Linked DNA regions of Homo sapiens. The protein of the gene in region 2 purifies or fractionates together with the protein of the main gene of each other region. This does not show direct contact. Each region holds a gene or a part of one and is shown on either strand. Other genes may lie near its edges.

Region 1 (3,011 bases), on a different chromosome or scaffold from region 2:
AAAATTACAATTGTATATATAATATACAATATTATACAATTATATACAATTATTATATAAAATAATTATATAAAATAATTTTATAATTATAATATATTATATAAAATATAATATATATAATATATAAAATAATTGTATACTATACAATTATACAGTTATTATACAATTATATACAATTGTATAATATTGTATATTTATCTTTAAAAACTTCTGGGAGTCTTCAGAAGTTTATATATACGTGAAAAACAGCAAAAGATATCATTTTACCCTCTTGAAGTAAACTAAAATTGGTAGGACCTCCTTTTCCAGATAAAAGTTTCATCTGGAACCTTGGGCGTGATGTGATTGTGCTAACGTAGTCTTTATCTAGGTTTGTTTATTAATTTCTAGGCAGGAAGACCAACTGCATCCATTGTACACTCTTCCAGCGGAGACATTTGGACCTTGTTGGGAACAGTGCTTTATCCATTCCTTGCCATCTGGAGATTAATTAGCAATTTCTTGTTTAGTAATCCGCCTCCCACACAGACTTCAGTGAGAGTAACATCGTCAGAACCCCCAAACCCTGCATCATCTAGCAAATCAGAAAAAAGGTATCTGTGTGTGTTTTCCCCATTTATAAAATATGTAAGTCATGCCCAGTATCTTTTTTAAGTAAAAAGTTGAGTACTTTGCCTTTCTGTATATGTCCTCTCCAGTTCCCACGGTGGAGGAGAAAAACTCCGATGCTCTGAAACTTTATTACATCATCTCTACTGCAGAGCTCACTACCTGCGTTTTCTCAGCCAGCTTTATAAAACCAATTTTTTGGAAAGCAGCTTCACCTCTACTGGTTTATTGTTTCATTCATTGAAGTTTCTTTACCCCATAACTATCAAGGCAGATTTTTTTTTCTAGTAACCTCTTTCTTGCTAACCATGTTTGCTTGACAAGATAGTTCATTGCATTAATCGTTCAGGGTCATCTTGCATAATTACTGTAGGTGAACTACTCTGTTTTGATCATTTTAACCCTGTTGGTTCTTTTATCTACCGGCTGACAGCCTTGTCTGGATCATTCAGAGAAGGACCAAATTGTGGAAACAGGTTATTGCTTTGAAAATTCTCTCTCAGAGAATTATTTTGGACTAATCCCTTAACCAAGAGACCAGGGCCTGATGCAGTGGCTCACGCCTGTAATCCCAGCACTTTGGGAGGCTGAGGCGAGAGAATTACTTGAGCTTATGCATTCAAGACTAGCCTGGGCAATATAGTGAGACCTTGTCTGTACAAAAACAATTTAAAAATTTGCCAGGCACATGTCTGTGGTCCCAGCTACTTGGGAGGCTGAGATGGGAAGATCACTTGAGCCCGGGAGATTGAGGCTGCAGTGAGCCAAGATTGTGCCATTGCACTCCAGCCTGGGTGACAGAGTAAGAGTGAGATCCTGTCTCAAAACAAAAACAAAACAACTTTTATAGCAGATAGCATGCAATGGTTAGCATAGTAATACAACACTGACAATTTTAACTCCTATCTTTGTTAAGATTTTATATACTTGAAACAGGTTAATGGGAAGTATTTTCCTAGAAAGTAAGTTTATGCCCCTTTCTAATAATTACATAATAATGTAACTTACTGAAATGGACACCGCTGTTAAGCACTCTATGAGGCCTTTTATAGGCATTATAACAAATCTTCATGCCAGTCCTATGTGATAAGTAATAGAAATTCTTTTTTCTCTGCCCTCAGTATGGAGAAGCCCTAGTCATGTGTTTATGGATTCCATAGGTAATGACATATAAGTATTGTGATTGGGCTGCTTTGTCCTTTATCTTATTTCATAACTGTTAGGCAGGAAGACCAGTTACCTACTAAGTACGTTACTGTAGTGAGGACAGAGGGAAGCTCAAACAAGGCTGAATCTTAAAACTCTTACTGAGCAATGGGTGGGAGCATTTAATACTGAATTACTGTAATATAGGAGAGCTCGTTGTATGGATTTTTAAAACTTTTTTCAGGCTGGGTGTGGTACCTCATACTTGTAATCCCAGCTCTTTGGGAAGCTGAGGTGCAAGGATCACTTGAGGCCAGAAGTTTGAGACCAGCCTGGGCAACATAGTGAGGCTCCATCTCTACAAAAAAAACTTTTAGTGAGCTGTGTGTGATAGCGTGTGCCTATAGTTTCAGCTGCCTGGGAAGCTGGGGCAGGAGGATTGTGTGAGCTCCAGAGTTTTGAGGCTGTAGTGAACCGTGATCGTGCCACTGCACTCTAGCCTGGGCAACAGAGGGGACACCCTGTCTCAAAAAAGAACAAAAAACAACACTTTTTTCAAATAAGAGAAAGGTCTTAGATTAGAGCAAAGGATGGAATAAAAGGTGTGTCAAAGAGAGGGTGAAGCTTTGTGTTCCACCATTATTTTTCCTTTTTTCTCTCCCCTCTAGAGTTATAAAAGTCTGTTGGCTTAAATTTTATCCTTATACCTTTGTATTTTCAGAATAGGAAGTCCTCTTCATTCTTAATTGTTTATAAATAAGTCATTCTTGAAGATTTTGCGAAGGATTTAAAATTGACCCTTTCTGTCAAGCTGACTGGAGCTTTGGATAGTCTCTAGGGTGCTAAGTTACAAATGTTTTAGTAGATAATGTCGGCTTGCATAAATAACAAAGGAAAGATTAGTTGGCAAATGGTCACACTCCTCTAATGCTTATTAAGTCACTAAGAAACACAATGGAAATGGAATATATGATTTGGCTGGCTGGCTTGACTTAGAGATCAGATGAAGCTAAACTACCAAAGACTGCTAAAGTCTAGTACTGTGTTAGTAGATATAATGGTCTCCCATGGACTTTCCTTACTTTAGATGGCATTAAAAGTAAAACTTAGTTGCCTGTACTGATGGAAGTTGGAAACAGCTTGTATTACTATTGTTTTTATTTTATGACATCTTCCCCTTGCTCCCTCTTTTTCGTATCAGGGAACCAGTGAGAAAAAGAGTGCTGGAAAAACGTGGAGACGACTTTAAAAAGGAG
Region 2 (2,681 bases):
CCTGGGCTCAAGCGATCCTCCCACCTTGGCCTCTCAAAGTGCTAGGATTACAGGCTTGAGCCACCGTGCCCGGCCATCCTGGGGTCTTTCAACAAATTGATAACTGGTAGCTACTATGATCTCAGATTTCAGGTTTCTCAAAGATTCTGTTTCTTGTTTCGTAAGATTCTGAAATGCTGATGTTCCAAAATTCTGAGATGGTTTGTTTCTAACGTTCTGCATTTCTAAGTCTTTGACCACTGAGGGTGTCTGTCAGGCGCGGCTTCCTATGCCCTCTGCCCCCAGGTTCTCCCAACCTCTGGGACTGGGAAGGAGGGCAGTGGGTGGAGGGGGCTGGGCCATTGCCTTGACATGGCCCACATTCAGGGCTGGCTGTGGCAGCCCAGGGCCCCAGAGCCAGGCTGGAACTAGGATACCAGCCTCCAGGTCCCAGGCCTGCGTCATCTCTGCGTGCCCTCGGCCAGGGCCACCAGACAGAGACGGGCTGGTTGAGTCATCCAAGGGCTGGGGGTGGGGCAGGCTGTTCCGGCCGGCTCCTGGCTGGCAAGGCAGGAGTCCTACGCCCAGCTCTGCCCCTAACATGCCCCGTGCCCTTGGGCAAGCCTCAGCATCAGGGCTGCCACGCGTTCGGTGGTGCTCGAAGCCCTTCAGCGTCAGGGTCAGTCCTTGGGAGGGGGGCTGTGGTCAGGCTGGTGGGCTGGGCTAGCAGTGGCAGGACAGGAGGAGAGCAATTGCCTCTGGTGGAATTAATTACTCTTTTATTAGCACAAAATAACAGCAACCTAGCAGCCGCACGGCCCGAGAATAAGTTAAGGCACAGAGCAGGCGACGGGCGGCTTTCCCAGGGCCAGGCCTGCATGCCCCGAACTTCCTGAGCAAACTCCCTAGGGGCTGGGGTTTCGAGGGTCCTGGAGGGCCTCTTCCCTTGAGATGAGGGGAACGGAACAGGGCAAGAGGGGCGCCCCCATGGGCGCAAGGGGTCCACGCTGCGCCGCGATCACTTCTCGAAGTAGGGCAGGTAGAAGAACTGGAAGCCCCGGTGGCCCTTGACCGCGCAGTAGATGAAGATCACGTGATAGACTGCGGGGCGGGGCCTGTCAGCGCAGAAGCCCCGCCCCTCCCCGCAACACCGCCCCCAGTGCCGCCCCACAGCCCCCGCCCCTTCCGCCCCGGTGCCCGCTCGCACCTCCAGGCACCAACAACAGGAAGCCCGGCACGAAGAAGATGGCGCTGGAGACACCTGCGGGAGGGACCAGAGCCCGGTCAGGGCGAGGGGGCGGAGGCTTCGAGGCCTTCCGGGCTGCCGCTGACTGCCCGGGCAAGCCTCACTCCCAGCTGAAAAGGAGCCGTGTACTGCCGGGAGGTGGGAGGGCTTGCCGTGGACCCGTGGACACAAGACAGGGGTGTCCTCTGCCTGTGGGGGCGGGAGGGTCGCTCACCTGGAGAGGGGGTCGCCTCCAGTCCCACGCCGACCAGGATCAGCACTGCACACAGACGGAGCCGCGGGGGTGGGGGCAGGAGCAGTGGTGAGGGCGGGGGCTCCCACCCCCAGCCCGGCTCACCCACCACCTGAGCTGAAGGTGCCCTAGGCAGAGACCCTCCCCAGGAAGCTCACCAAGCTCTGTTTCCAGAGCAAGGCACTGAGCAGGCCCTGGGAAGTGTGTGAAAGGAGAGATTTTTCTTTGTTCCTTGGGGTGGGCTTTTAGTCATTCAGCAAACATTTATGGAACACCTACTGCGTGCCTGGTACTGGGAATTCCGCCCTGAAGGGCAGATAAGGTCCCTGCCCTCATGGCCCGTCCTTAGTGGAGGAACCAATAAGAACCTGAAAGCTAACAGTACAGGTGATTGGGATATAGGGGGTAAGAACAGGGCAGTGCAGGAGTCCTGGGTCCCCAGTTAGAAGAGTGATGGGGGAATGAGGAGCTGGACTTTGGGCTCTGCAACAAGGGGGGTAGTAAGCCTGGGGGACTGGGGGGCCACCATGGACTGCTTTGTGCATTGCCCAGACTACTTCAAAAAGGGTGGGCCAGGTGTGGTGGCTCATGCCTGTAATCCCAGTGCTTCAGGGAGCCAAGGCAGGAAGATCGCTTGAGGCCAGGAGTTTGAAGCCAGCCTGGGCAACATACCAAGATCCCCATCTCTATAAAAGGTTAAAAAAAAATTAGCCCAGCCCAGGCGTGGTGACTCATGGCTGTAATCCTAGCACTTTGGGAGGCTGAGGCAGGAGGATCACTTGAGTTCAGGAGTTCAAGACCAGCCTGGGCAACATAGTGAGACCTTGTCTCTATTATTATTTTAAAAAAAAAAAAATTAGCTGAGCATGGTGGTACATGCCTGTAGTCCCAGCTACTAGGGAGGCTCAGCTGGGAGGATGGCTTGAGTCCAAGAGTTTGAGGCTGCAGTGATCATACCACAGCTCTCCAGCTTGGGCAACAGAACAAGACCCTGTCTCTAAAAAATAAAAAGGGCTGGGCGTGGTGGCTCACGCCTGTAATCCCAACACTTTGGGAAGCTGAGGTGGGTGGATCACCTGAGGCCAACATGGTGAAACCCCATCTCTACTAAAAAAATACAAAAAATTAGCCAGGTGTGGTGGCGCGCGCCTGTAATCCCAGCTACTCTGGAGGCTAAGGCATGAAAATCCCTTGAACCCAGGAGGCAGAGGTTGCAGTGAGCCG

Evidence for each region. Proteins that work in one complex are often made in the same cells at the same time.
Region 1: the proteins of TMEM134 (region 2) and UBXN4 purify together in Homo sapiens (affinity purification with mass spectrometry; one large-scale study listed by BioGRID and IntAct). This does not show direct contact.

Annotation. Positions count from the first base shown.
Region 1 is NC_000002.12:135,779,793-135,782,803, forward strand, and holds part of UBXN4 (UBX domain-containing protein 4), read left to right. Parts: intron 1-390; coding exon 391-593; intron 594-2,956; coding exon 2,957-3,011. UniProt on the Homo sapiens protein: Involved in endoplasmic reticulum-associated protein degradation (ERAD). Acts as a platform to recruit both UBQLN1 and VCP to the ER during ERAD.
Region 2 is NC_000011.10:67,463,617-67,466,297, forward strand, and holds part of TMEM134 (transmembrane protein 134), read right to left. Parts: exon of another isoform or gene 1,658-2,681; intron 1,652-1,657; exon of another isoform or gene 1,485-1,651; coding exon 1,440-1,484; intron 1,241-1,439; coding exon 1,187-1,240; intron 1,081-1,186; coding exon 998-1,080; 3' UTR 1-997.